Linked DNA regions of Homo sapiens: all the other regions are reported to be linked to region 5. Evidence: microRNA targets listed by miRTarBase, many of them from high-throughput screens and not tested one by one. Region 5 holds a microRNA gene; each other region holds the end of a gene's coding sequence.
The links. Region 5 holds the annotated microRNA hsa-miR-548b-5p (AAAAGUAAUUGUGGUUUUGGCC, at 2,183-2,204, opposite strand). A microRNA usually pairs through its seed, bases 2 to 8, with sites in the 3' UTR of a target mRNA and lowers its output. Matches are read on the target gene's strand: a 7mer-m8 pairs with bases 2 to 8, a 7mer-A1 pairs with bases 2 to 7 and ends in A, and an 8mer does both.

Region 1: the mRNA of SAMD8 is a reported target of hsa-miR-548b-5p. Seed matches in the 3' UTR shown: 7mer-m8 at 2,517-2,523, 7mer-A1 at 2,622-2,628, 8mer at 2,657-2,664, 7mer-A1 at 5,853-5,859 and 7mer-m8 at 6,248-6,254.
Region 2: the mRNA of RAB8B is a reported target of hsa-miR-548b-5p. Seed matches in the 3' UTR shown: 7mer-m8 at 2,118-2,124, 7mer-m8 at 3,956-3,962 and 7mer-m8 at 4,717-4,723.
Region 3: miRTarBase lists PEG10 as a target of hsa-miR-548b-5p. Seed matches in the 3' UTR shown: 7mer-m8 at 1,448-1,454 and 7mer-m8 at 3,364-3,370.
Region 4: miRTarBase lists YAP1 as a target of hsa-miR-548b-5p. Seed matches in the 3' UTR shown: 7mer-A1 at 5,076-5,082 and 7mer-m8 at 4,668-4,674.

What each region holds. Positions count from the first base shown.
Region 1 is chr10:75,175,231-75,181,612 of GRCh38, forward strand. It overlaps SAMD8 (sterile alpha motif domain containing 8), which reads left to right. Exons shown (of 6, transcript NM_001174156.2): 5 at 836-986; 6 at 1,158-6,382. The coding sequence ends at 1,462. Among named protein-coding and RNA genes, the nearest start is that of VDAC2, 32 kb to the right of the region's middle.
Region 2 is chr15:63,261,787-63,268,168 of GRCh38, forward strand. It overlaps RAB8B (RAB8B, member RAS oncogene family), which reads left to right. Exons shown (of 8, transcript NM_016530.3): 7 at 906-956; 8 at 1,741-5,990. The coding sequence ends at 1,833. Among named protein-coding and RNA genes, the nearest start is that of APH1B, 13 kb to the right of the region's middle.
Region 3 is chr7:94,664,517-94,670,898 of GRCh38, forward strand. It overlaps PEG10 (paternally expressed 10), which reads left to right. Exons shown (of 2, transcript NM_001172437.2): 2 at 1-5,179. The coding sequence ends at 1,166. Among named protein-coding and RNA genes, the nearest start is that of PEG10, 11 kb to the left of the region's middle. RefSeq lists an enhancer at 2,592-2,711.
Region 4 is chr11:102,228,767-102,235,148 of GRCh38, reverse strand. YAP1 (Yes1 associated transcriptional regulator) reads right to left here. Exons shown (of 9, transcript NM_001130145.3): 9 at 1,725-5,447. The coding sequence ends at 5,209. Among named protein-coding and RNA genes, the nearest start is that of BIRC3, 86 kb to the left of the region's middle.
Region 5 is chr6:119,066,916-119,073,297 of GRCh38, forward strand. MIR548B (microRNA 548b) reads right to left here and starts at 2,228; the gene lies at 2,132-2,228. The region is part of intron 1 of FAM184A (family with sequence similarity 184 member A); the gene reads right to left.

The DNA.
Region 1 (6,382 bases), not on the chromosome of region 5:
CGTGGCCACACCTAGCTACAAGGGAGGCTGGGAAAGGCAATATTTTGGCTGAATTCATTGCTGCCTCAATATATTTGAGATTGTGTTACCAGTGAAGAAGGGGAGAGTGGATGTTGAAAGGTAGACATTGATCTCCGTCTGTCATAGCCTATGTCTTATTGGCAAGAATAGCCAAGCAACTACTACTGTGATATTGGATTAAAAACTTGGAGATGTTTTTGTATTATAGAGAACTTTTTATTATAAAGGAACTCCTAGTAAAGGAGTTCATGTTACAGTGATTTCATTTATTTATTTATTTATTTATTTATTTTTAATTAATTAATCAATTTTTTTGAGACAGAGTCTTACTGTGTCGCCCAGGCTGGAGTACAGTGGCGCGATCTCGGCTCCCTGCAACCTCCGCCTCCCAGGTTCAAGTGATTCTCCTGCCTTAGCCTCCCTAGTAGCTGGGATTATAGGTGTGCACCACCATGCCTGGCTAATTTTTGTATTTTTAGTAGAGTTGGGGTTTCGCCATGTTGGCCAGGCTGATGTTGAACTCCTGACATCAGGTGATCCACCCACCTCAGCCTCCCAAAGTGCTGGGATTACAGGCATGAGCCACTGTGCCCAGTCTGATTTCATTTAATTACCAAAATATTTCTGAGTACAGCCAAGCTTTGCCCACCCATTCTTGAAGTCTGGCTGGAATTCATTAGACTGAAGGCCTAGATGCTTTGGCTTAGATCTTATTTCTAAGTTATTCAGCATTTGAATTTCAATAGGAATGGATGTTGGGAAGTTCCCACCTCCCTAAGCATTTGAAGCACTAATTCATAACTTTTCTTCATAGATATATGGCAGTGTATGGGAGAAATTACATCGAGCCTTTGCCATTTGGAGTGGCTTTGGTATGACCCTGACTGGCGTTCACACATGTGGAGATTACATGTTTAGTGGCCACACAGTCGTCCTAACTATGCTGAATTTCTTTGTCACCGAATGTAAGTATCTTTTTAGTGCTTCTATGCGTATTAGGTAACTAGCTGCAGTGAAGGCTGTGGGAAGGGTGTCAGATCCTGTGAAGAATGGCAAAACAGCCTGACCTGAGAAACGTGACTGAGAAGCATTGGAAGGAATGTAGCTTTAAAATGATCTTTCTGTCCTTTTCCTAGATACACCAAGAAGCTGGAATTTCTTGCACACTTTATCCTGGGTTCTCAACCTCTTTGGAATCTTCTTCATCTTGGCTGCCCATGAACATTATTCTATTGATGTGTTTATTGCTTTTTATATAACAACAAGACTCTTTTTGTACTACCATACTCTGGCCAATACCAGAGCATATCAGCAGAGTAGGAGAGCAAGGATTTGGTTTCCCATGTTCTCTTTTTTTGAATGCAATGTTAATGGCACAGTACCTAATGAATATTGTTGGCCATTTTCAAAACCAGCAATAATGAAAAGACTAATTGGATGAATACTATCTTTCTAATGAATTTGTGATTAAATATATAATAGTTGTTGAAAATGAGTAACTTTGCGTTCTCCCCCTAGGTTGTTCTTAGATGCCTGGCTTATGTGTTGACAAAGTAAAGTTTTCTGTTCTGAGCAAAGTTATGATTATAAAAAGCAAGAAAGAACAATCAAGAGTCCTTATGTAGCTATTTGAACAGAAAGCTTAAGTAGATGTTTTCTGCCCCTTCTCTTTAGGAAGACTTAATGTTGTGATTGAAGTCAGGCTGTACCCTTACCTGTTGAGTATTTGCTTATTGAACTTTAAACAAGTCAACTTGAGCAGTTTGCTGGTTGAGGAATTTTCATTGATTTCCAGTAGGGCTCTAGTCAAGAAATAATATGTTTTGAAGCTCCTTATTACCTTTAGAAGAAGAAACCCTAACAAGTGACAGTACTTGTTCTTTGGACTAATCTTTGTTTCATTTTAAAAAATGCAACCCTGGGACATGATCTGTTTTACTGACAAAGAGTTTTTGCCTTCTGAACCATCTTTAAATATACTGAGCATACCAGGATGCCTGAAATAAGAAGAGAATGAAAGAGGCCATAGATGACGTGACAGAGTACTGGCTAGGATGCCATTGGTCTCCTCATTAATGCAAATGTAGGGCTGGCATATTTCACCAAAGATGCAACAAAAGATGCAGTGCCAGTGTGACCCTCAGTGAGTATTCATGAGGGAAAAATGGCTGCATCCATAAAAATAAATGGGCTTAATGTTAGTGGTATAGGTACCCAGAATAACTTCTTTGTGCTATAGTTGTTAGATGACAGTTCAATTTTATGCTTTTTTAATGGTGTTATTAAATGAGCCAAATAGGAGTGTTTTACCAGATGTTAGATAAAGTTCTTAATGCCGTTAAGTAGGGAGGTATGCATGCAAAGAATTGTTTTCTCCTGAAAAGAAACTTACAGCACGCAAAATATAACTTTTTGGTTTTTGAAATTTATCATTCTTGGCTGTTGGAAGTAAACAGTCTCAGACATACTTGGATATGAAAAAGTTTCGTTGTTTTTTACTTTTAAATATAATGGTGTATATACATTCTTTCTATTTAGTCTTAATTTGGCAGTCAGGAAGTGATATAACTTAGCTGCTATTTACAACACTAGAAATTTAGTACTTTAAGTAATTTCACATCTATGATAACATTTGTTACTTTATTTTTAATGATTTTTTTACAGTAGTTATGACAGTAGGATGGTTATGGAATTGGAATTTAAACTCCCAACTAATGAGCTTAAGCTGCTTGGAATATTAATTATGTAGTTTTTACATTCCATTTTAAAACAAAAACTTAGAAAAGGTGCTGGCATTCTGAGGCCTGCAATTAGGCCACATAGCAGAAGCTTGCTCCTTCCTTATCTGGGTGAAATATTTTATTTTTGCACTTTGAGTCATATTCCCACCCCTGTATAAGCTACATAGGAGCCTGAATGAATTGGGTAGGAAAGGAAATTATGCAAACAAGTCTCAGCTAGTGCTGAATGACCCCAATTTGGGTCTGCTGTGAACATCATTTTTGTATTTCTCACTTGAGAAATGCTGCAAGGCAATTCAACTTTTATGCTTTTAAATCTCACAACTCAGAATCTGATATCTTAAATCACTGATTCTGTTACATGCTAGGAACAAAATGCCAACATCTCATGTAAAGAAGTTGCATAATCATGAAAAATAAAGGATGTTTCCTATGCCAGTTAGAGTGGTTTGACCCTTCAGGTAAAAAGATATGTTACTGTTATTTTTCTACGTGACAGAACAGACTGAATTTAGCTAGGGAGGCAGTGATGTTGGCTTTTGGGAAAGGGTTCAAAAAACTGTATGGCAACATTAATGCTAAAATGTTAAGCCGAGTGCAGTGGTGCAAGGCTATAGTCCCAGGTTCTGAGGAGGCTGAGGCAGGAGGATTGCTTGAGGCCAGGAGTTAGAAACTAGAGTGTGTTATAACGCCTATGAATAACCACTGCATTCCAGCCCGGGCAAGGTAGCAAGACCCATTCTCTTAAAAACATGGCTGGGTGCAATGGCTCACGCCTGTAATCCCAGCACTTTGGGAGGCCAAGGCAGGCGGATGGCTTGAGGTCAGGAGTTCGAGATTAGCCTGGCCAATATGGTGAAACCTCATCTCTACTAAAACTACAAAAATTAGCTGGGCATGGTGGCACGCACTTGTAATCCCAGCTACTTGGGAGACTGAGGAACAAGAAACACTTGAACCCAGGAGGTGGAGTTTGCATTGAGCTGAGATCACTCCACTGCACTCCAGCCTAGGTGACAGAGTGAGACTCCATCTCAAAACGAAACAAAACAAAACAAAACAAATTAGAGTGGGTGCAGTGTCTAATGCCTGTAATCGCAGCACTTTGGGAGGCTAAGGCAGGAGGATCACTTGAGCTCAGGTAAAAGAGACCAGCCTGGGCAACAAAGTGAGACCTCATCCCCACAAAAAGTTGTTTAGAAAATTAGCTGGGCGTGGTGATGCATGCCTGTGGTCCCAGCTACATGGGAGGCTGAGGCAGAAGGATCACTTGAGCCCAAGGAGGTTGAGGCTACAGTGAGCTGTAATCATGCCACTGCACTCCAGCCTTGGGGACAGAGTGAGACCCTGCCTCAATCAATCAATCAATCAATAACAAAAACTTAAATAGCTATTAACCTCAGTCTTCTTTCCTTCATATAAATTCTATTCTAAGACCAAATAGAAAAATAAATGTAACTAACTTTGCAGAGCTATTGACATTGAGAGACCTAACAACAGACTGCAATGGGGATTGTAAAATAACTTTTCAGCCTTGCACTTGCTCATATATGTTTTGAGAAAAATGTAAGTTAGGTATAACTTATTGTTTTAACTATTATAAGGCAGTGTTTACATAAATTAATCATCTCTTTCTTGGAAAACATTGAGACAAATTTATTTTCAGTTTTACTTAAACATGAAACCTGTATTTTAGTTGCTTTTTGTTTTGTCCAGAAATTTCCAGATTTTGTCTTCATTTTTTTTCCTGGTTAAAATCTAAACCATAGTGAAGATAGTATTTATGTTTACATTTTATCTGTGAATGTGGCTAAGCAGAGAAGCTACATGGCTTTGGTCTACATATTTTTTGACCTTGTATTTGGTTCTGTAGTTGCAGACTTGTGAAGGCTTACATCATCATGGAGACTTTAGTAAGGAAGGAACCAAAAGGTTTTTGGTTTGGGGATGCAAACTGGAGGTTATGTTACAAGTCTTCAATGCATTTTCTGTGTTCCTGGCAGCAGTGTTGCCTTTTTTTTTCTTTTCCTTTTTTTTTTTTAAAGACCAGGTAGGGTAGTGTTATTGAAGGGTAATTGAAGAGTGGTAGAGAGTAAGAGGTTTTGAAGGAGGCAGGTTTGCTGTTATCACAAAATAATTTGGGGGAAACCTTTCGTGGCTGTGCTGCAAGAATTCTTTATGTGGCTATCCTCTCCATAGTTTTCTGACCAGAATTGCAAGGGCAAAAATAGAACTTCTAGCTCTATTTATTTGTATCCTTTGAAATCAGAACTTATCCTTAGAACCAGTCAGTTAAATAATGCGGACTATGCCTATAATCCCAGCACTTTAGGAGGCTGAGGCAGGCAGATCACGAGGTCAGGAGTTCGAGGCCAGCCTGGCCAATGTGGTGAAACTCCGTCTCTACTAAAAATACAAAAATTAGCCGGGCGTGGTGGTGCACGCCCATGCCTGTAGTCCCAGCTACTCGGGAGGCTGAGGCAGAAGAATCGCTTGAACCCAGGAGGCGGAGGTTGCAGTGAGCCGAGATACTGCCACTACACTTCAGTCTGGGTGACAGAGCGAGACTCCATCTCAAAAAAACAAAACAAAATAAAATAATAATGTGGGCTATTCAGAAGAAAAAGTCAGTGACAGAGAGACCAGAACCCATTGGATCAAGAGACCTGCAGGGATTATAACTCTTTACTCTGTGAGCAGCGGTGTTTCGTGCCCTGTCTCTGCCTGTGTGTTTTTACTAAGAATTCCAGAAATCCTGTAATTTGTAAATGGGAAACAGAGGAACCAGATTGTTTTATAGCTGATAAGAAACAGTCTGTTTTAGAAACATCTGTTTGGAAAGTATTACTCATGTATTCACAAAGTCATATTTATAACACTAGTCTTCTTTGACTGTATTCAACAAAAGGCAGTTTCACCATTAATTTCATAGTAAGCTTTTTTAAAGGATTCTAGATCTAAATTGCCTAAGAATGTTAACCACATTCTTGTTTTAAACTCTCTAATTTAATAAATGTAATTATTTTATAGTCTTTTATAGACTTACATTTTCTTCATACTAAAGGTAATGATAATATAGTCATTTGCCAGTACTTTAAGGTATTCAGGCATTTGAGACAAGAAAGCTGTCTTGTAGAATAGTCCAATTGCTTTCTTAAACAGTACTGGTTTCATTTAGACAGTTTCTAAGCCAGCAAAGGTGTCAATTTTAATGCCAACTTGACAGTTTAACAGTTAGTGTTTGTAAGCAGTTTAGCCTGAATTATCCCATACTGCTGTAGAGGAGAATTGTTAGTAACATCAAAGGTCAGAATGCTTCAGGTGACTAATAAGAATGGAAAGAGACTGAGTAGGTTTTTTGTTTCTTTTCCCTGTCTTTGAGTAACTTTGAATGACTAAAATTAGTATGAAACTAGGTTTTGGACCCCCTTCTCACCTCACCCGGATGTAATGCCACCAATTTCAAATAACTAAAATGTGACCAATTACTTTGCTTCAAGTTCTATACAAATATCTCTGAAATCTGTAAGCCATATTTCAGCTATTCTGGTTTTTATAATACATTCTACCCTAAATTAACCAAAGGACTTTTTATTCAGTGTATTCCATGTTTCAGCATA
Region 2 (6,382 bases), not on the chromosome of region 5:
CAAAGAGGTTGATTTAACAATAGGTTTAGCATGGTGACAAATGAAGAATCTTTAACAGTTCCTGGCTTCATAGAAAAAGTGATGATGGATTTAAAAAATATTTGGTTTGTATCAAGAGACATTATGGATAAATTATCACGAAGATTAATCAGATTTGCCCTGCTTCTATTCGAACTGACTTCCATGGTGGGGAATTTAGCCGAGAGCTCCAGGAACTGTTGGGATTTTGGAGTAAGACATGGAAGATTATACATATTCAGCTATAAGAGTGAGAGCAATTTGAAAGAAAAAGCCAGAAATAAAAAGTAGAGATTTTTGTGAAGACATTTTAGAGCTATAGGGTAATACATAATTATTTATTCACTCATTAAACCAGATAGTCAGCATTTCCTAGATCAGCACTGTGCCCTGCTCTAGGGAAGTGGGGTAGCTTAGACAGAGCTTCTGTCCTGTTCTTGGTGTACTGAAGAAGTTACTCGTGACTCAACAAGGGTGTTATTGTGATATTATATCACATGAAGAAAATATTTGATGAATGAATGATAGTTTGATAACATTGGAAAATGTTTATGATACAATCTCAAAAGAGTAAACACATGCATACTATGATTACAATTATTACTTTCTTAATGTAAAGCTTTAAAGTGGTATATTTATATTGAAATAATGAAAAATTCTGTATTTCTGTTTTAAAATAAGTCAGGCATGGTGGCTCACACCTGTAGTCCCAGCTACTTAGGAGACTGAGGTGGGAGGATTGCCTGAGCCCAGGAGTTCCAATTCAGCCAGGGCAACATAGCAAGACCCCATCTCTGAGGCGGGGGGAATATATATATGTGTATATATATATATATACATATATATAGTGAATATATAATAATGAAAATGTTTTGTTTTACCTATAGGCATTTTTTACACTTGCACGAGATATAATGACAAAACTCAACAGAAAAATGGTTTGTATCACTTATAATTTTTATTTCCATTATGCTGTCTGTTTGGCATTTGATGAAAAGGATAGGTCTAATTATAAGATACTCAAATTAAACTCATTTTTTTCCTGACTCAGATACTCATTTGGTTGAACTCTGATTCTTAGTTCTGTTTGTTTAGGATTCTTATTTCTGAGCTGCCACTGTTTCAGTCCTTTCTTCTGGCTCTTTAAGTGATCTTTAATTGAATTTTGATGAGAATAATGAAAATAATAATGGCACAAATTCGATTTTTGCCATAAAATTATTCAGTTTTCATGTGACAGGTATTTATATCTGCATAACTACGATTTTGAAGTTGCTAAAGTTTGCTTAAATTTGAAATCATTAAGACAACCTTGAAAGTTTGTTTTATCCTGAGTCCTGACTATAATTGCGTACCTTATGCTACTAACTCTTCTTACCTCTAACAGAACTGTCTATGCCAGTATCTTAACATTGTTTCCATCATTACCTTTGAAACTTTACACTCCATTGGAACTAGAAATAGAAGCTTCCTATTGAATACATTATTGATATAAAAGCTGCTATCGTAAGGGCATTTTCCTCTTTTCAATTCACCATTTCCAAAGAAAAAGACAACATTGGTGCTTAACTAGTTCCCGTTCTAATAAAATACTCTAGTGAATACACATTTCACTAGAATACACATTTCACATGGTATGGTTAGTTATTTTTATTTTTTAGGTAACTGAGGTCAAACCATGAAACTTTTATTTCCTTGGTAACTTCATCTTCTATTTTTTAGAATGACAGCAATTCAGCAGGAGCAGGTGGACCAGTGAAAATAACAGAAAACCGATCAAAGAAGACCAGTTTCTTTCGTTGCTCGCTACTTTGATGAACTCTTTCTGAGAGACTGCAGCACACCTAGAGGGCCCTTTCCTGCTTCTCTGAAAGCACAGGTCACCCAGCCTCAGAATCACACCTCCCGGCTGCTGCTGAGAGCACCACTGAACTTAGACCTCTCAACACAGTATGCCAAGTGGATTCCAGCCTCATGGCCTAGCAAAAGAACAGACTCCCTTTTTCAAACATGGAAGCAATGAAGTGGAGACACATGCAGGACCTAACTCGTTTTTTCCTTGTTTTATTACCTGTTGCAGAAGCGGTTATCTTTCTTTTTTACTTTGCACATCAGTGTTAGCCTTTCCCTATTTCAGCACAATCTTAGACTCATATTTGCACACTTTTGTGTCGTGAAGTTCTAGACAAATTTGTACATGTGGCAATGTTAAAAGAGCATTTACAGCAGAGGTTAATATACTAAAATTAAAGGGTATTTGGTCTGGTTCATATGGTCAAATATTACTGCCTTGGTAGCATTTATTTAAGGGCTTTTTCTTAAATAAGAATCATTAAAGTCATTAAAAAAATTTACTGAAATGCCCATCTTGTCATCAAAGGCCACAATTTCTTTATTTCTTCAGATTAAGAGCTTTGCCTCATCCCCGACCTGTTTTCCAGAGTCTGGGTAGCTGAATGAATCACTTTAAAATGATTACCTCTGCCTAATCTATAGAAACTGCATTTGGAAATCACCATAATCTCATTTTTCCCTGGGGTTTGTATTTGCTATTCTTTCCCATGTTTGACTTAAGTGTAATCACTCTTAAGTAATATTTGAACATTATTATCTGTTTCTATTTGTGAACTTCTTGAGCTGAAATTTTACGTGGGCTGAGAGATATACCATTTAGGGTTTTAGTGCAGCATCTAACTGTGATTCTGTCAATAAGGATATGTAATATATTTTTTCTTAGGTTCACTCCTTAGCTGGCTGGTTTAGTTGTAATACCAAATTCCTACCATAATCCCTGTCTACAAAAGTTAGGTTTAGATTTTAGTTTGCGGAAACCTTCCCTATATAGAGACAGATTAACTTGTTGATATAAATTTAATAGAGCTAGCTCTTGGTAATGGTGAAAATAATGAGTTTTGGTTGGTTTTATTTGGCAGATGTTTTTAGAAATAAAAGTACTTAGACCTAGTGCAGCCTCTAGGAAAAGTCTTGCCTTTTCATTAGAGAAAACAGGACCAAGGTTTCAGTTTTCAAACAGCTGTTGTTGATTGTGTAGAACCCAGTTCCATCTGTTTTGGTTCATTGTTACAGAACTTAGTCCAGTCATTTGGGCTAAAGCCAACCAAAAGCTTAGTTGCCTTTCTCAACAAACACTGGTACTGGTATACTTTTGTAGATGAAACCATCACAAGGTATTTAGTGTTAACTTGTGTGCCAAATTCAGATCACTATGTCGTTGTTGCTCTAGCCTTCAGTGTCATAACACAGGGGGGATAAAACAGAGGGGATGAGGGAAATGAATTCTGTTAATAATTATTCTTCCTGGTATGCCTGTTTTGCTTCACAAAGGCTACTATCATGCTGGATAGATAAGAACAGGAGATGGCAGTGGAAAGGGATTGCTTGTTACCACAGAGAATTCTCTTCAAATTAAGATATGTCATTAGAATGCTTGGACCAGTCAATCTTTTGTACTTATTTGAAAATATAGGAACAATTTAGCAGCTGCAAATATGCCCAAGCTATTTTTAATAGATATACTAAACTTATTGTTGACAAATTTCAGCCTCCTTAATTTTTTTTTTTTTGGTAATTACCTATAGGCTTAAAAGTCATTCGTTGCTGTTCTAGTATAATTAGTAGTTCCGTGATTGAAAGTTTATTGTAATTCTACTATCTTCAAATTAGATACATTTTCAAAAGGAAAAGATAATTTTTTAGAAACATCTTAATATTCACTATTTCCTGAAAAAATCCAAGCAGTTAACGCTTTCTGGATGGTAACAAAGTACCTTCTAAAAGATAAGTGCTATGACACCATGTATGAATGTAATTCTCTTAGTAATTTACCTCTGACTATTTGGTGTCTTAACGCTTTGGTTTATATAATCTCAGGGGTTGTCTGCAAACCAAAACTGACATATTCTGTGGTTAGCTTTTATTACTTTTTTTTTTAACAGAATGCTTTGCTTTGGTTATATTTCTTCTTTCTTCTTTTGTCTTATATGGATTAATAACTAGTCTCCATGAACTTCACTTGAAAGAGCCTGTAAAAGTTAGATGAGTCTAAAAGTGCTCTTTGAAGTAGCAGCAAATTGGGAGTATATGCTCTGTTATATAGAAATAAATTGTCCTTGCTATTTTCTTACATTTAGCTTTGCTAGATTGTATATACATTGAGCTAAGACCTTAGGAAATTCACTTTCTGCATGATAAAATGACCCAATAAATATTCCACTTTGCTTAATAATGTACATACAGTGCATTATTTTTTCTATTTGTAGATGAATTTAATGACAGATAATTGTCTGTTCCCCGCTGAAACTGAAGAAATCTAGTTTTTTTGTGAACATTTTTGTGGTCTTATGGATAAGGTACATGAAGATTTTTGCAGCAGTATTAGTGGTTCAGTGGCTGCACTTTATTAATCAGTGTGTTAATTTTTGACAGTGATTGGACTAGACCTTTTCAAATAGAGTCTGAGGGTATCAGACAGTGAAAATGTGCTGTAACTAAGTAGCATGTAAATCAGTTGATTGTAAAACGTTTCGCTGGGAACTTATTTTAGCTATATTTTACTTCAGACAGATTATGATACAATAATCTACCTGTGCATCAGTTAGTAGGTGCTGCAGGGTTTCTTACTATTTACAGAAACATTTTGTGCAGTCTTTGTTATAAATTTTCAGAAGACTATACTCTTTACTTTGAAGGTCTATTTTTTAATTATACCTCATTTAGCTAACTAGTATTCTAATACCTGGTAGAAAAACAGTGAGCCAGCCTTTAAGCATCTAACAAAATTTAGACTCTTTGTTTTGTTTTGAACTGAAGACATCATTGGGAAAGGTAGGAAATATTAGTTTAGGATAGAGCATACATGTCATATCCAGTAGCATAAAAAAAGTATTATCTCCCTGTCTCCATTAATAAATTTAGCTGTGCAATATAGGTGCGTTTTTGCAGAAGTTTCTAGTAAGAGATTATAACTCCATTTTACAGGTTCTGAATGCTCAGAGTCTATATTAAGGCTTATAAAGTTTTTCCTGTGATCAGTAAGTGACACATTTAAGCAGACATTCTTTTCAAGTTCATGACTTAGATTCCTTTACAAATTTAGTTCTCAATCTTTAAAAACCACATTTCATTATGTTGGTTAATTATTATAAATTTTAAGCACTCATTTCTGCAATCAGGTTTCTCAGAATTTTTTTTTTTTAAACAGAAGAGACATTCCTTTTTCCTTGTTACATCCAAGGGGGGCACAGGGGTGGGTGGAAAGGAATGTCTAAAAATGAAATCCCTTGATATAGAGGGACCTAGACGGACAGGATATGCTAAAATAATTTCAAATTCTAGCACAATTTTAGAGTAGAATAAGTCATTTTTTTAGACTAATAAAATTAATGGCTGTCATGTTCACTCTGAAAAAAATCTAAATGACTGAAATGTACAGAAATAAAAATTAGCAAACAATTATTCTAGGGATATTTTCAGATTTTACTTCATTTCTTGAAATGCGTGTGCCATATGCAATTGCATTTCTTGTGCCAAGAAACTAATAGAACTTATTTCACTTTACCTTTTTTTAAAATGTGAATTTAGTTATTATAGTTCAATTTTATGGCCTTACAGATGGCTTTTATTTTGTTTGCAGCTGACACTGCAGTTCCTTTCATGCAAAATACCATAAACTGTTTGATGAAAATCATGCCCCTAATGGAAACTCTCTAGTTTTTCCATATAACTATCCTACTGTACATGTTTAAACATATTTTATTTTTGCTCCAATGGCTTAATGTGAAAAGCTCCTGCAGATAAGTGGACCTGTCATGTGGTTAATCTTGTTTAAGCCAATTCATTAACTGTGTACTGATACTGATGCTATGTTTTTTTTAAATGGATTTTATTCCAGGTGAACTTTTTTTTTATAATAATGTTCGTCTAAAATAAAAACTACATAATGAAAATGAAAATGCTAATGGCTCTCTGAAATGGACTGCACATTTTAAAAATATTTCTGCAAATTTGGGCCAGATGCAGTGGCTCACGCCTGTGGTCCCAGCACTTTGGGAGGCTGGGGTGGGTGGATCGCTTGAGGTCGGGAATTCAAAACCAGCCTGGCCGGCATGGTGAGACACCCATCTGTACTACAAAATTACAAAATACAAAAATTAGCCCAGAATGGCAGGGCATGCCTGTGGTCCTGGCTGCTCAGGAGGCTGAGGTGGGAGAATCGCTTGGACTTGGGAGGTGGAGGTTGCCGTGAGCTGGGATCGGGCCACTGCACTCCAGCCTGCACAATGGAGTGAGACCCTGTTTCACAAAAATAAATAAATAAATAAAATAAATTAAAAATGTTTCTGCA
Region 3 (6,382 bases), not on the chromosome of region 5:
TCCCCGGCCCCGCTGTAGAGGGACCTTCAGCGACCGGGCCAGAAATAATAAGGTCCCCACAAGATGATGCCTCATCTCCACACTTGCAAGTGATGCTCCAGATTCATCTTCCGGGCAGACACACCCTGTTCGTCCGAGCCATGATCGATTCTGGTGCTTCTGGCAACTTCATTGATCACGAATATGTTGCTCAAAATGGAATTCCTCTAAGAATCAAGGACTGGCCAATACTTGTGGAAGCAATTGATGGGCGCCCCATAGCATCGGGCCCAGTTGTCCACGAAACTCACGACCTGATAGTTGACCTGGGAGATCACCGAGAGGTGCTGTCATTTGATGTGACTCAGTCTCCATTCTTCCCTGTCGTCCTAGGGGTTCGCTGGCTGAGCACACATGATCCCAATATCACATGGAGCACTCGATCTATCGTCTTTGATTCTGAATACTGCCGCTACCACTGCCGGATGTATTCTCCAATACCACCATCGCTCCCACCACCAGCACCACAACCGCCACTCTATTATCCAGTAGATGGATACAGAGTTTACCAACCAGTGAGGTATTACTATGTCCAGAATGTGTACACTCCAGTAGATGAGCACGTCTACCCAGATCACCGCCTGGTTGACCCTCACATAGAAATGATACCTGGAGCACACAGTATTCCCAGTGGACATGTGTATTCACTGTCCGAACCTGAAATGGCAGCTCTTCGAGATTTTGTGGCAAGAAATGTAAAAGATGGGCTAATTACTCCAACGATTGCACCTAATGGAGCCCAAGTTCTCCAGGTGAAGAGGGGGTGGAAACTGCAAGTTTCTTATGATTGCCGAGCTCCAAACAATTTTACTATCCAGAATCAGTATCCTCGCCTATCTATTCCAAATTTAGAAGACCAAGCACACCTGGCAACGTACACTGAATTCGTACCTCAAATACCTGGATACCAAACATACCCCACATATGCCGCGTACCCGACCTACCCAGTAGGATTCGCCTGGTACCCAGTGGGACGAGACGGACAAGGAAGATCACTATATGTACCTGTGATGATCACTTGGAATCCACACTGGTACCGCCAGCCTCCGGTACCACAGTACCCGCCGCCACAGCCGCCGCCTCCACCACCACCACCGCCGCCGCCTCCATCTTACAGTACCCTGTAAATACCTGTCATGTCCTTCAGGATCTCTGCCCTCAAAATTTATTCCTGTTCAGCTTCTCAATCAGTGACTGTGTGCTAAATTTTAGGCTACTGTATCTTCAGGCCACCTGAGGCACATCCTCTCTGAAACGGCTATGGAAGGTTAGGGCCACTCTGGACTGGCACACATCCTAAAGCACCAAAAGACCTTCAACATTTTCTGAGAGCAACAGAGTATTTGCCAATAAATGATCTCTCATTTTTCCACCTTGACTGCCAATCTAACTAAAATAATTAATAAGTTTACTTTCCAGCCAGTCCTGGAAGTCTGGGTTTTACCTGCCAAAACCTCCATCACCATCTAAATTATAGGCTGCCAAATTTGCTGTTTAACATTTACAGAGAAGCTGATACAAACGCAGGAAATGCTGATTTCTTTATGGAGGGGGAGACGAGGAGGAGGAGGACATGACTTTTCTTGCGGTTTCGGTACCCTCTTTTTAAATCACTGGAGGACTGAGGCCTTATTAAGGAAGCCAAAATTATCGGTGCAGTGTGGAAAGGCTTCCGTGATCCTCTCGCTGCACCCTTAGAAACTTCACCGTCTTCAAACTCCATTTCCATGGTTCTGTTAATTCTCAAGGAGCAGCAACTCGACTGGTTCTCCCAGGAGCAGGAAAAACCCTTGTGACATGAAACATCTCAGGCCTGAAAAGAAAGTGCTCTCTCAGATGGACTCTTGCATGTTAAGACTATGTCTTCACATCATGGTGCAAATCACATGTACCCAATGACTCCGGCTTTGACACAACACCTTACCATCATCATGCCATGATGGCTTCCACAAAGCATTAAACCTGGTAACCAGAGATTACTGGTGGCTCCAGCGTTGTTAGATGTTCATGAAATGTGACCACCTCTCAATCACCTTTGAGGGCTAAAGAGTAGCACATCAAAAGGACTCCAAAATCCCATACCCAACTCTTAAGAGATTTGTCCTGGTACTTCAGAAAGAATTTTCATGAGTGTTCTTAATTGGCTGGAAAAGCACCAGCTGACGTTTTGGAAGAATCTATCCATGTGTCTGCCTCCATATGCATCTGGGCATTTCATCTTCAGTCCCCTCATTAGACTGTAGCATTAGGATGTGTGGAGAGAGGAGAAATGATTTAGCACCCAGATTCACACTCCTATGCCTGGAAGGGGGACATCTTTGAAGAAGAGGAATTAGGGCTGTGGACACTGTCTTGAGGATGTGGACTTCCTTAGTGAGCTCCACATTACTTGATGGTAACCACTTCAAAAGGATCAGAATCCACGTAATGAAAAAGGTCCCTCTAGAGGATGGAGCTGATGTGAAGCTGCCAATGGATGAAAAGCCTCAGAAAGCAACTCAAAGGACTCAAAGCAACGGACAACACAAGAGTTGTCTTCAGCCCAGTGACACCTCTGATGTCCCCTGGAAGCTTTGTGCTAACCTGGGACTGCCTGACTTCCTTTAGCCTGGTCCCTTGCTACTACCTTGAACTGTTTTATCTAACCTCTCTTTTTCTGTTTAATTCTTTGCTACTGCCATTGACCCTGCTGCAGGATTTGTGTCATTTTCCTGCCTGGTTGCTGAGACTCCATTTTGCTGCCACACACAGAGATGTAAGAGGCAGGCTTTAATTGCCAAAGCACAGTTTGAGCAGTAGAAAACAACATGGTGTATATCTCAAATTGCCTGACATGAAGAGGAGTCTAACGGTGAAGTTTCACTTTTCATCAGCATCATCTTTCACATGTTCATTATCATCTGCTCTTATTCTTGCATGTTTAAACACTTAAAATTTTTAGTATAATTTTTAGTGTGTTTTGAAGTGGTGACTAGGCTTTCAAAAACTTCCATTGAATTACAAAGCACTATCCAGTTCTTATTGTTAAACTAAGTAAAAATGATAAGTAACATAGTGTAAAATATTCCTTTACTGTGAACTTCTTACAATGCTGTGAATGAGAGGCTCCTCAGAACTGGAGCATTTGTATAATAATTCATCCTGTTCATCTTCAATTTTAACATCATATATAATTTCAATTCTATCAATTGGGCCTTTAAAAATCATATAAAAGGATATAAAATTTGAAAAGAGAAACCTAATTGGCTATTTAATCCAAAACAACTTTTTTTTTCCTTCAATGGAATCAGAAAGCTTGTCAATCACTCATGTGTTTTAGAGTAATTACTTTTAAAATGGTGCATTTGTGCTTCTGAACTATTTTGAAGAGTCACTTCTGTTTACCTCAAGTATCAATTCATCCTCCATACATTTGAATTCAAGTTGTTTTTTTGTCAAATTTACAGTTGTCAATTGATCTTCAAGCTGCAGGGTGCCTAGAAATGGGCCGTTGTCTGTAGCCCTGGCATGTGCACACGGACATTTGCCACCACTGCAAGCAAAAGTCTGGAGAAGTTCACCAACGACAAGAACGATTAGGGAAAATATGCTGCTGTGGGTTAACAACTCAGAAAGTCCCTGATCCACATTTGGCTGTTTACTAAAGCTTGTGATTAACTTTTTGGCAGTGTGTACTATGCTCTATTGCTATATATGCTATCTATAAATGTAGATGTTAAGGATAAGTAATTCTAAATTTATTATTCTATAGTTTTGAAGTTTGGTTAAGTTTCCTTTCACTCAATTGATTTATTTTGTTGTTAATCAAATTTATGTTAATTGGATCCTTTAAATTTTTTTTGGCATTTTCCAACAAAAATGGCTTTATTCATAAGAAAGGAAAAAAATCAATGGAATTTGATATCTAAAGAAGTTAGAAAGGGAGCAAAATAAAAAACATAAAGGAGATAGATGAATTAGTAAGCAAATCAGTAGTCGAGTTTTTCAAACTGGCAAAATTAATTAATTGACTTTTAGCCCAAATTTACATTGTTAATTAAATCAAGAAGGAAGAAGATCTAAGAGCTCCCATTGATAGGCAAGCCTAGAGAGAACTAGCTAAATTTATCATGCTAGGATATTGAAACACAGAAAGTTTACATACATTTATGAAGGGTCAATTTAGTTTGGACAGTGAGGTATTTGTCTTAGTGGAAAAAAGGAGAATTAGTCTGATCAAATCGTGAAGTAATACAGTGAACTTGCAGGTGCACAAAATAAGAGGGCCACATCTATATGGTGCAGTCTGGAATTCTGTTTAAGTTTGTAGGTACCTCTTGGACTTCTGAATTGATCCAGTTGTCATCCACCACAGACATCTCACATCAGATACAGACAGTTCCAAGATTGACAACAGAGAACAACCTGCTGGAAAGACCTGGGCAGAAATGGAGAGCCCTGCGGGAACCATGCTACATTTTCATCTAAAGAGAGAATGCACATCTGATGAGACTGAAAGTTCTTTGTTGTTTTAGATTGTAGAATGGTATTGAATTGGTCTGTGGAAAATTGCATTGCTTTTATTTCTTTGTGTAATCAAGTTTAAGTAATAGGGGATATATAATCATAAGCATTTTAGGGTGGGAGGGACTATTAAGTAATTTTAAGTGGGTGGGGTTATTTAGAATGTTAGAATAATATTATGTATTAGATATCGCTATAAGTGGACATGCGTACTTACTTGTAACCCTTTACCCTATAATTGCTATCCTTAAAGATTTCAAATAAACTCGGAGGGAACTGCAGGGAGACCAACTTATTTAGAGCGAATTGGACATGGATAAAAACCCCAGTGGGAGAAAGTTCAAAGGTGATTAGATTAATAATTTAATAGAGGATGAGTGACCTCTGATAAATTACTGCTAGAATGAACTTGTCAATGATGGATGGTAAATTTTCATGGAAGTTATAAAAGTGATAAATAAAAACCCTTGCTTTTACCCCTGTCAGTAGCCCTCCTCCTACCACTGAACCCCATTGCCCCTACCCCTCCTTCTAACTTTATTGCTGTATTCTCTTCACTCTATATTTCTCTCTATTTGCTAATATTGCATTGCTGTTACAATAAAAATTCAATAAAGATTTAGTGGTTAAGTGCAAACTGTGTCCTGATCATTTCAGCATCTACCAGCATCAAGGGAATGGGGTGGGGTAGGGTGGGGAAGGCTGAGAGAGTAGGGAGAGTGGGAGAGGCTAGAGTAGGGTGGGGCTGTGGGGAGGGTGGGATTGTTGGAAGGGTAGGGAGGTAGGAGGGTGGGTAGGGTAGGGGTGGAATTGAGTTTGGGATAGTGGGGTGGTGGTATAAAGAACATTATTGATTACAACCTAGTATGAATTATATAGCCAGAATACTCCAGGAAATCAGTTATTCCAGCTGCAAAAGTTTAACATATAAAATAAAGATACACAATTAATAGCAACTCTGGTTGCTATTATCACAAACTTTAACATCAGTTTTACTTTAAATACTTGAGATTCATTAATATAAAATTATGAAGTATTAGGACATAGAAGAAGAGTTTCAAAGGGCTGCTAGGTTCATATGACATGACAGTCACATAAATATGACTGTTTATTGGGAAGATAGTGACTAAAAGGAAAAATCTAGAACTAATGAAAACACACAACTAAAAACTGTCTACCCTCAGAAGCAGGCTACCAGAGTAGCTATCCATCAAGCAGAGCTCACAAACTCCAATCGTGTGCAGGGTGGTGGGTGGGTTTGAAGAATTGGGAGTAAGGGTCCTCAGCCAAGAACTACTGAGTTATTAAGTACCTGCCCTGGGGGTTTCTTACAATTTAACCTGATACAAAAGTGATTAGCCAAATCCAGTTGAAAGAAAATGGAAATATTTTATTCCAATTTGTTACACCTAGACTCCTCCTCATCTGGGCCCCACTTCTTTCCATAATCCATGTGATTAAACAAAAACAAAAAAAAAAGGTGCTCAGCCTCAAGATTATATTAAGTTATGCAGCTGTATGACAAAGCTAGTCCAGAACAATAAACTTATTTTACATAACAATTGCAATATTTTTTGAAACTTTTTATGAAATGAATAAAGACACCCTCTTATCTAGTGTAGTAGATGCTAGCAATTAATCAAAACAACTAATTACAATCAAAACAATTGTTTAGAATGATGACCACACTATGTTAACTTAAAACACAAATGTACATTCATTTGGTCAATCTTAAAAGAGGTCCATATTCTACTGATTGGAGCTCTGAGTTGCCCTTTTGAATAAATCATCAGTACAAAATGTTATACAACAATGGGAAAATAAACAACTTTTAAAAACA
Region 4 (6,382 bases), not on the chromosome of region 5:
CAGCTCCTTGGGGCTGCCTTTCTTTTGTAACCTCAGCTGTCAAGAAATGGAAATCGGGGTTGGGGAATTAAACAAAACCCCCAGTCTACCGATCACTTCTGCAGTAGTCACCTAGGTTTCCTTTCACTAGTAGTTACTGATCTCTCTCCCCCTCCCCCTCCCTCTGGAAGACTGTTTTCTTGCTTATTGCAGCTGAGCAATTCACTTACTGAGCTGTTGAACTTTAATTTGGGGTCTAAGAAAAACATTATGTAAATCATGTTTTAAGTATGACTACTATACTTCTCAAGTATTTGGAATGTTCCTCCTTGTTCTCGTTAGAGGCTATTCCCAAATCTAAATACATTTTTCTGAGTATTCTGTTAAACTCAGAGTTAACTAAAGATGGTACAATTCTGGTTCAGAGATCCAGAATGAAGGCAGATTCACATTACTGGGCTTCACACCATCTGACAAAAAGTGTACCACCGTGGAGCAACAAGCACAGTGTCTACAGACACAAGGTATGGTTTTGAGCCAAGATGTACCACCACTATATCTGAACTACAAAAAGGAAATAATCAATTTCAAGCTACACGAAATTAGTGTTCTAACATAAAGAAATTATATATTGTAAAATATGAAGCATTTTCAGATTTGCCTCACCAAAATAGATGTGTCAATAATTGAAGCTATTATACACGCAAACACAGAAATCAATCTTTTTTTTTTTTTTTTCTGAGATGGAGTCTCGCTCTGTCACGCAGGCTGGAGTGTAGTGGCGTGGTCTTGGCTTACCGCAGCCTCTGCCTTACGGGTTCAAGTGATCCTCCCACCTCAGCCTCTCAAGTAGCTGGGATTGCAAGCATGCACCACCATGCCCAGCTAATTTTTGTATTTTTAGTACAGATGGGGTTTCACCATGTTGACTAGGCTGCTGTCGAACTCCTGACCTCGGGTGATCTGTCCGCCTCAGCCTCCGCCCACAATGCTGAAATTACAGGCGTGAGCCACCACGTCCAGCCATCTTTAAAGATACTCAAATCTACTTCTTATTCAAAGGTCAGGACCTACCACTTCAATTTGTGAATGTTTTTATTTATAAGCCAGTAAGTAATGCTTTTTACTAATATATAATATTCTCTCATGACCTCCAAAATAGAACAGAATATATATATATTCTCAGCCTCCCGAGTAGCTGGGATTACAGGCATGCGACACCACGCCCAGCTAATTTTGTATTTTTAGTAGAGACGGGGTTTCTCCATGTTGGTCAGGCTGGTCTTGAACTCCCAACCTCAGGTAATCCGCCTGCCTTGGCTTCCCAAAGTGCTGGGATTACAGGCGTGAGCCACCACGCCTGGCCTGAGAGAATATATTAAAGAAGTAAAACCAAAGGCCATTCTGAAAGACAGTGCCATGTTCTTATGTTCTCAGTGTCCTCTGTGCCGTCACATGTAGTGAAGTCATTTAAGAATCAAGCAGACGCAGTTCTGCTTAGACACTACCACGGATGAGGATGGTGTATGTGAAGAGTAAGAACACAAAGTTAAAAGAATTATATATCCATACTTCAAAAGTTCCAAATGTCAAGCCTAACTTAAAGCACAACGAAACTTAAGTTTAACTTGTCTTCCCAGTTACTACTGTAATCACCTTTTATTGCCAGTTCTTGTTCTATTGGAAGACCAGTAAGAAGCCAAAAAAAAAAAAAGTTTCAAATATCAATTGTTAAAAACAACAAAGAAGAGTTTAAGGAAAGAATATATTTGAACCACATAAACAAACAAAAAGGTATTACATAAGAAAAAATAATGTAACAATTTATGTAAGTACCTAACATATGAGCATGCTCTTACATCTAAAACAAAAAATAAAAAGGTAACATTGGTACTATATATATATATTTGACAAGTGTGCATTAAAGAATTCTCTAATATAAAACATTTAAAATGTGGAGAATACTTTTTCAAGATACAGAAAACAATTGTTATGATAGGCACACCCACAATTCTTATAACAACATGCTTGCGAGGATAAAATCCACCTGAGCACTCATTTCTCAGATGTACCAACGCTAGAAAAGTGTTAAGCACTGAATATTGCCACCCACTTTTGCAATGTTTGAGTTTCAACACTGATTGGTATGAATTCTGAATTACACAATTAATTACTGTTATTTTTCAGTCTTTCTGCCATGTTCCATATAGAAGGCATGTATTTAATATGAATACTTAACACAGCAACATTATTTGTAGCAAAGTCACTTCCCTGTGTTCATTTTTCCTTTAAAGGCACTACATTTAGAAAAGTTATTACAACAAATAGTGCTTTGGAAGATCTGAAACTCCAAATCAATGTGCTCCATCAACCATAAGTAGATCTAAGAAGCCCTGACTGAAAATAACACAAATGTAAAAAGTTGATAAATTTAAAGATTATAAAATTGGTTTATTGTAAAAGCAATTCAAGAATACCCAGTTAAAATCTTATCCCAATGCTACCCAATACAACCAAGAAGCAGTTAAGCACTTTTACATTAGGAACAAGGACATAAAACAAGAGACCACATCAAGGCTATGATTCAAACTCAAAAAGGGAAAGGACTCTTAGGTCTCCTTCAGGTCAGTACAGAGGGCATCGTAAGATCAAAGCACTGTGCCAGGTATCACAGTACTGCTACAACACTGAGGTATAACTGGGCAAATTAAAGTTGAGGGGTAAAGGAAGATCTCCATATTCATATTGTTTTGTGGGTGTACTTAGGTGACTGAAACTCTAGAACAGCTGCCTTTAATGGCAGCACGGTGTAAGACAAGTCTTTATTAAAGAGAAAGAAGTTTATAAAGTTCTCTATCAAGGTCCCCCTAAATCTTCACAACCCCCCCCCCAAACTTTCCCACCCTCCCCCTAAGCTAAAGCTAATCTGCTGATATATAAGATATAATCTTAATCTGTGGCTACTGGCAAATTATAGGCACTCCTTCCAAGTAGCTTTGATCTTCTGCACATTAAAAAAAATCCCAACAACATGCTATGTAATTCATATACCCAATTTTGCATTCTAGGTAGAATTTCATTACTACTCTAAAACTCCATCTGCAGTGGCCATTTCCCCCCAGACTTAATTCAAGATTTAATCTTTCTGCTGTTTTCTTAATAAAAGCCTTAGAGTCAATTATTATGAGTGATCAACCTATGAACTATTATATACAACACAGTGATTGCATTTTTTTGAGCACTGAAAGTACTTAAAATAAAACTTCTTACTTCCAACTTTTGCCCTCCTCCAAATTGAAGGGCCAAAATACTTAGATTTTGTAATTGGGGGGAAAAAAATCTATCTTCCCAAGCTGAGGCTTTTCATAGCAGCTTTTGCCAGGAGAAGAGATTTTATGCCTGTTATGAACCCTTGAAAATAAGGGCTTATTCTAGAAACATTGAAAGACCCTTAAAACACAGAGGTGCTAGCTGGTGCCACTTTAATTCACAACCAACTATTACTTCATAGCTTATATTGAAGAGTTAATTCATGCTCGTTTTGTTCCTTTAAAAAATACTCTTTGGAAACCATTATTACTCCTGTAGACACATACTCTAGTTACATCATCTCTTCCTGTAAAAATAAAGGTATAATCATGATTATCTCTATTTCTTTGCTAAATTCAACTACCAATATACATTTATTAATCTGATCACTTTTCCAGCTAACTCAAAACCTTATAGTATTCTATCCAGGGTCAATTTTCAGCATAGAAGTAGGAGCAAGTCTTGTAAGTAAGAACAATCTTGAAGGCAATATTTTAATCTAGTCGTTAATGTGTTCATTACAAATGAGAACTACAAACTAGAATTTACTTCCAAAACTAAGGCAAAGAAAACTTCCAAAGCTAAATGAAGGTAAACCACTATAAAGCTTATTTCTGTCATGCACATTATGAACCTACTCACTGAATTCCAATCGAGACTTAAAAATTAGTCCAAGGGAGAAAATAAAGCCATTTCTGGTTTGCTCCTTTCCAATTCATCAGATAATATCTACCGTATGCCCAGAGGGCGTGGAGCACTCCCCTAGGCACTATCCACAGTAATAGCTCTTTCTAGAACACTAAACTACTTCAAACATCTGCAGACTGCCCCAACCAGATTTAAACTACCAGTGAAATATAAACTACTAGTCATGTATTCTAAATGCATACAAAGCGCTACCATTTTAAAAATTAACTGGAAAGCAGGGAAACCTAAAAAAGGATACATTCCACTACCACACTATTATAAATGTTATGTTTGGGTGTGTGTATGTATATAAAAGAGAGAGCAGATAATCGAGATTTAAATAAGGTGGTAAAAAAAACCAGGAAATGAAGATTTTACCAAAACAACTACAATAACCATCCCAAGCTACAACTATTAACAGATTCACTAATATGGTCATTTGCCTAGGTTCCGACAAAACCAACCAACCAACCAACCCCCCCACCGACCCTGCCAAAAACAAAAAAAACAAAAAACCCAACAAAACAGAACAAAATGCACACCCACAAAATTATCCACCAAAATCTATATTAGAGTATGTGGCAATAATTAATATATTTATATGGAAATTGTCTCATGCCTTATAAGCTCCTAAAATAAAATCAAGGTCATTATGTGACTAATGATAGCACTAGGAGGAAAAGAAAATACTGAAAGTAAAACAGTCTTCAGCCTTGGTTTCAGCTATCTCTTCAAATCAGCATTAAGTATTTAATATCAGATATAACATTTTTGGCTTGTCAGACCAGTAAATCATGTTTTTCCACTGGACAAAGGAAGCTGAAGAAACAACTGTTGAACAAACTAAATGCTGTGACATGAAGCATCTGACTTCTAAGTCTGAGTATTTAGTTAAAATGATTGGTGAACATTTAACTGGGCAAAAGGAATGGCATCCATCATCCAAACAGGCTCACTTCCCCCAGCCCCCAAAATGAACAGTAGTTTTAATAGCAAAAGAAATAAAAAGTTTTTTTCTTTTGATTCTTTAGAGCCAACTGTGAAAGAGGTCAGCAATACATTAACAGCAGCAATGGACAAGGAAGAGCAAAATAGAGGATTAAAGTATCTTGCTGGACGTTTGTTCATCTTTTTCTGTATTAGCCTGAAAACTGCAACTGGCTTATGGAAATTTCCGGTGCATGTGTCTCCTTAGATCCTTCACAGATTTAGAATTCAGTCTGCCTGAGGGCTCTATAACCATGTAAGAAAGCTTTCTTTATCTAGCTTGGTGGCAGCCAAAACAGACTCCATGTCATTAAGGATGTCAGAACTCAAAGCTTCCTGCAGACTTGGCATCAGCTCCTCTCCTTCTATGTTCATTCCATCTCCTTCCAGTGTTCCAAGGTCCACATTTGTCCCAGGAATGGCTTCAAGGTAGTCTGGGAAACGGTTCTGCTGTGAGGGCAGGGTGCTTTGGTTGATAGTATCACCTAGTGGAAACACACAGAGATAACAAAGTCCTTTTTGAAAAGCTAACATCAGGGCTGTATCATATGAGCACAGAGAAATGCACAGGGAAAGAAAAGCGCTCCTGACTGACCTAAACTGATACCTAGAATTTATATCAGGTCAAACAACTCACAGATAACAAAATAACAATGCCAAGTTTACTTTTGCTTCAACATTGTTCAGATATCCAATAACAGCTTGATTGCTATTATGTGCTGAGCACTAAAGGAGTCATGAAAAAAATAAAAAAGCCCTTGAAAAATTATATGCAGCAGCGGGAGAAAGAACAAGTACACAACACGACAGCATCACTACCCTGTCTTCCAGATAAGCACCACCATAATAAGACTAAACATAAACATGAGTGGTATAGACCTACCTTGGCCTTAAATATACTTTGGGAAACACTAAAATAGAAAGACTGCAAGAATACTTTATTCTACCCTTAGGAGATGCACCTTCCTAACAGCAAAACAAGCCTTCCCAGAGGGCTTTGAATAAATCCATCTTCCTAGCCTTGCTTCTAGGTTTCCCAAACTTACTTGGCCACAGAGCCTTTTTTGCATATGACAACATTAACACTCCTCAGAGCTTCAATAGAACATACTTTCAGAAAAACTAACATAAACCATTAAGTGCTACAGGGGTCTGGAGAAGAGAGCAATACAGATTAGAGGAGTAAGTAAAGGTGTTGTGTGTGAAATGGGTTTGAAGTGGCTCCTAAGGATGATTTAACATCTAGATAATCAGAGAGGAGGGGTAGTGTGGATTCTAGAAAGCATCAAAGCCAGGAGCTGGATGAATACAGGCACAAAAGCCTTGCTAAACACTTTCAGAATAGAAGCAGTTAGTGAAAGAGTTGGTAGCTAAAGAACAGCTTCATTTCCCTGCCAATTCATGCACTCTGGCAGTTGTC
Region 5 (6,382 bases):
AAAGACTTTTAACAAAACCAACTCCCACAGTGACAATTTATGCTAGAAAAGAAGTAACTGCAAACATGTTTTAGGCAAATGATGACTATGAAAGATTTTATTTAAACTAAAATAAATTATTTTTTAAAGGTTTTGCTCCATGCCCTGGAATCATTTACATATTTTTTTTCCTTTTTCTGATGTAGGGCAATGTGATAGATTCAAGTTTAGATCTTGAAGATTACAATTAACATACAAGGAAAGAATTTATCCCATGCTTATGATTGTAGGGTGGCCTGTAGGTGACTGGCAAGTCACACAAAAGATTAGTATTTCAGCCTCCATTATCCTTTCCACCCCTTTCATCTGAGGGTGTTTACTGAGATAATGAGAGTCAAAGTCACACTCATGTGAGGGTGTTTAGGGTGGTAATAAGAGTCATAGTCACTTAGGCCCCTAACAATAGCTGATAAACAGCAGGAGCTAAGAAAACAGCAGATGCAAAGTTGTGCTTCCATTTTTAGATACAGTTGATCTTCTTTACTCATGGACTCCCTATTTGTAAATTATCTTACTTGCTAAAATTTACATGTAACCCCAAAATCTAACACTCAAGGTGTGCTAAATAACCTTTGTTCAGGCATGAGTTATAGTGATATTTGGCTGTGGCTTCACTGTTAATGGATCAATATATATTTTAAAAGGTGTTTTAAACAGAAACACACATAAAACAAGGTTATACATTGATCAGTTGGTGAAAATGTTGTGACCAGAGGGTGTCAGGAACCTAGCTCTGTATTCTCCCTAGACCATGCAATACAACGACCACGAATAATGAGAACTGACTATATTTTATTTGCTGCTCAACCTTTACTTGACAGCTATGGTCCCCAACAATGTAGACTATATATCCATCAGAAAAGAAAATATAGCTGGGCACAGTGGCTTGCACCTATAATCCCAGCTACTCAGAAAACTGAGGTGGAAGGATCACTTGACCCCAGGAGTGTAAGGTTGCAGCAAGCTATGATGGCACCCCTGCACTCCAGCCTGGGCAACATAGCCAGACTCTATCTCTAAAAAATAAATAAATAAACAAACAAACAAAATAAAGACATATAAAAACCTACTTTATTGTTTTTTTGTGTGTGGGTTTTTTTTTTTTTTTTTTGAGATGGAGTTTCACTGTGCACCCAGGCTGGAGTGCAGTGGCGCAATCTCAGCTCACCACAACCTCCGCCTCCTGGGTTCAAGCAATTCTCCTGCCTCAGCCTCCCGAGTAGCTGGGATTACAGGCATGCACCACCACACTCGGCTAATTTTTGTATTTTTAGTAGAGACAGGGTTTCACCATGTTGGCCAGGCTGGTCTCGAACTCCTGACTTCAAGTGTGATCCACCCACCTCGGCCTCCCAAAGTGCTGGGATTACAGGTGTGAGCCACTGCGCCTGGCCTAAAAACCTACTTTATTGTTAAAGAGTATGTCAGCAGAGGCTTAACCAAGTGGGGAGGGGATAGTGGGTACAAACTGACTTCTCTCTCCTGCATCAATTATCTCCTTTAATCTTTATAATAATTCTATGAAGTACGCTTTGTCATTCTCATTTTACAGATGAGGACAAGACAGCCCTGAGTGGTTAAAATATGTATTAAAAGTCAAACACTAGGAAGTGGTGAAGGTGAACTTCAAATAAGGGAATGCCTAACTTACTGAACCACACCTCTGACCCATATGATGGGCACTGCTGCCTCACTGGGCCGTTTGGCTCTGGGAACAATGTGGCTCTCCGGCTGCCCATGAGAAACCTAAACCTAACACAAACACATTAACTCCGGGGTTTCCAAGACTGAAATTTCCTTTTACCCGCTCTACCCCCCAGCCAAATATATTAGAGATTTGTAACCAGAATATGTCAACTGAGTCATCAAAACCTTATTAGAGAATTTAGAAGGTATCAGTATAGTTTCTTTATCCAAGAAAAGCACGTACATAAGTTCTACCCAAAAAGAACGAAACCAAATAGAAAAATTTGCCCATGATTACACATCTAAAATTTGTCAGAATTAATGTACTGATAAATATGTTGTAATTAAAATATATGATTAATATATTCCAGTTACATTTTCTCAAGTCTGTTGGAAAATATATGTGAAGTATTAGGTTGGCACAAAAGCAACTGAGGTTCTTGCCATTGAAAATAAAGGCCAAAACCACAATTACTTTTGCGCCAACCTAAATATATAGTCTGAAATGGAATAATAAATAGTATTAAATAATTAATAGTACCAAGCACAATGTCTTTCATAAAGTAGGCATTCGACAAGTTTACCAAACACATAGACCTATATATTCTACTTCGGTCATATCTAAGTATATTTTATTACTCTGAGTAGACCATTAAACACACACACACACACACCTTCCTCCCAAAATTCACTAGGCGAAACATCTAAAGGTAGGCAAAGAATACTATTTAGTATTTTGGTCATAAAATGTTTTCTGAAAGAAATGAGAATCTTTAAAACTGTGCTTAAGGAGCTACAGGATGAAAAATGCAAATACCTGTGAACACATAGACACACATTCGCCAGAATAAACAAAATCTGCTCAACCACCAAGGCCAATGTCTAGAATTTGTAAATATCCAAATGCGACACTTCATTTTATAAGTAAAAAAGACATGACAAGTAAAAGGGCAAGTAACAATTTATTCAGAAATTAAATATCAGCATTCATGGATTTGGCCTAATAGGACTAGCATAAGTTTGGTCCAATTTCCTATATATGCACTGATGATCCTAACAATGATCTGGAGTTGATGAAGAACTCCAGTGTGATATATGAATGGTATGATGTAAATGTAAGTATACTATATGAGAAAGTGAAAACTTATTAACCCCTATGGAAACTTCTAGTTAACTAAAATAATTCATTCTCTAATAATTTCGCATAAATAGGAATTTACCCTGTTATTTTACTAAAATTATCAATTTTATTGATAATTTAAATATTAGTAATGCACTTTATAGATGAAATGTTTTACTTTCCAACTTCCTCAAACTTTGGTATAGAGATGGTACATGTAAATAAGGAAATACAGAATTAGCAATTAAAAAAATCAAAGTACTATCTCCTTTACAATTAAATGAGGTAGCACATGGTAGCCAAGTCTAAAATATCCAAATCCCACATATGATTGTTAATCACTAAGTCTTGTTTTTCCATGTACTATAGATCCTTTGATAGTTTCAGCTTCCATTTGCATCTCAAGATAATAGTGTAAGATACAGGATAAAAAATTCATATATTCAACTTCACTACTTTTTATACATTCTCGTTGAAGTTTTGGTAGAAAAGAAAGATGTAATCCTTGGTGAAATAAGGTTACAAATGACAGTTGTTCACTGATGTAATTTAGTTAAAAGTTAAGAATCAGAGATTTTCTAAAATTTTTGCTTGGTCTTAAAGGTTAAGCATACCAAAATACAACTGGCAATCTCCAACTTGCAAATATCATTGTTTCAAAAATTCATTTTTATATATTAATTGATTGGCAGCCAAAGAATATTTTCCAATATTTTGAAGGACCATTAACTCTCTAGGTCAATCTAAAAAGCCCCCTATGGTTTAGACCACACTTGACATATAAAATATAAACCTAATAGTTTGATATGATTCCCCCATATCAAACTACCATTTATAACATTGTTTTTCTTTATTTTTATTTTTTAAAAAGTAGAGATGGGATCTCAATGTTGCTGTTTTTATTTATCTATTTATCTAATCCTGAAATCAGTTAGTGATTGTCTCCCATAGGTGTCTATCTCCAAAAAAGGGACATGGGGCACCAATTCTGACATTTACTTAATGTCCTTTACATTCTGAAGTGGGCTGCAGGATAGAAACTTCCTGTGGTGAATAAAAAGAATGGCGTTACGAACTCCCGTCATTCACATCCTTTCCATTTCATGGCATAATATTCAAATTTATTTGAATGCTTATGAAGATTTTCTTTAAAAAAAAAAACTCACAAGATCAATTGAAAGGGCAAAATAACAGTATTTTATCAATACTCCCCTGGCCCCCATTACCTCCTATTTTCTTCCACAAACTAATTAGCTTTATAGACCCAGGTTATTCTTCATTCCCATCTCACATTTAAGAGATACAAAATTTTCAAAAATATCACAATTTTAAAAGTTAAAGTATAGGGAACTTATTAATTAAAATGAAGAAATTACTCCAGTCACATATTCCTGCTGAATCTTTATCTTTCATAACACTTTTTAAGACTGGTGATTAGAGGCTAGCAAAGGATTTTCATAAACTAAACAGATAGTGAATCAATAAAAACTGGAAAACTTGCAATTTACTGTGTTTAGGAATGGGGTCTAAGCAACAATCTAATCAAGAATGAAAGCAGTCAAAAGAAAGACATTTAAAATAACCACAGTAGTAATTTTCACACCAAGTATGGCAGTCTCTAAGTTAATGTTATTTTAAATACGTTTCAGTTTGGAATGACTAAACCTGTTAATAAAAACATGAAAATATTATGACATTTAGCTGACAGCACACACAATAAACCTCTGTTACAAAGTGACCAAGTCATAGTATACAAAATATACAACCTATAAACCCAGAAAGTTCCACAGTAAGTATACAGAGGAGACACAGGTTGGTTTCACCCTTATCAAAAATTTGATTCAGATGGTAAGTAAAACATGGTTCCAACATGGAAAAACAATAACTCTGTGGTCTCTTATTGAATAAGTAATATTAGAAAGAAGGTAGACACAGGGAAAAGAGGCCTGTTAGTGTGGCCACCCCCACCTAGACCAATCTAGAGAGCTGAATGTGAGTCCAGGTTGAGTAATCTTCAAATGGCACCGAGCCCTCACACCTTCTATACTTATAAAATGAGAGGGTCAGCCTGGTCACAGTCTAAAGTCTAAACCTTTAATCTTTTTTTTTTTTTTTTTTTTTTTGAGATAGAGTCTTGCTCTGTCACTCAGGCTGGAGTGCAGTGGCATGATCTCAACTGCAACCTCCGCCTCCTGGGTTCAAGCAATTCTTGTGCCTCAGCCTCCCAAGTAGCTGGGATTACAAGCACCCACCACCACACCAGCTAATTTTTTGTATTTTTTGTAAAGACGGGATTTCACCATGTTGGCCAGGCTGGTCTCGAACTCATGGCCTCAAGTGATCTGCCTGCCTTGGCCTCCCAAAGTGCTGGGACTGTAGGCATGAGCCAGGGCACCCAACCTAAACCTTTAACCTTTAACTCTAAATCTTTAACTCTAAAGGAAGTCCCTTTATAAGTTTGTGACCAGTTAATTAACAGGATACTATGCTTTTGTGTCCATTAGTAAAATGCAACAAATTAATCCAAACCACTCCACTATGACTAAAAGATTACATCCAAGCCACTGCATAACAGCATGGCAAAGCTACAATGTAACAAAGAAAAAGAGATGCTGCATTTGGCATGTACTAGTGCTAAGGTGAAACACAGCCAATTGCTATGTTTTATGAGGCCACTTACCATTCTTGTTCAAAGACTCAAGTCATAAGCAATATAGAATTATTATGAAAGAGTATCTAGATAATTCAAACAAACCAATTAGTGAAAAATCATTTATTTCATGTACAGAAAATAGTATTATTTGAAAAATTCACTGGTTTTGGTGTTATATAAACACATTCTGGTTTTGGATATAGTAAAAGCAGAGTTAGTATAAAATGACTGATCACAAGGCTTTTTTATATTTGCTAAGAAACTAGTATATTAATTACCTACATTCTGAAGTGTCAAATACTTATAATGTAGACAAAGAACATTATATTTGTATTTTTTACATCAAAAATACATTAAGAAATAAAATAGCTTTTTGAAGCAGTTTAAAGGGCAGTCAATAAACATTTACATATTTAGGAATAATTTAACTCAGCTGAAATGATCTATCATTAACCCAGAAGAGTAGCAGATACAATTCCTAAAAAGTACTGTCTTTCTCTGCTGTATAACAAAATTACTTGCTGTATCATTATGACCACCATCTTCTTCAGTAAATACTTATTAAGCTTTGGTACTATGTGCAAACCATTCATATTAAGGTTACATGTAATAAAAGATACAGTCCCTAGAGCTGAGAACCTTACAGTCAAATTATGAAAACAAAGTATATTTATAAACACAATAAACAGTATTTGCAAGTTTGCATTATTAAGTATCAAGTAAGAGGTACCAACAATCAATGCTAACGCACAGCAAGGAAAGCCCAACAAGGGTAGCTGGTCAGGACAGTTTTAGTAGAAGAGCCATAAGCTGGGTATTAAATAAGAGGACTTGATGCTAAGCACAGAAAACACAAAATAAACTACTTCCTGCTGTTTGGGAAC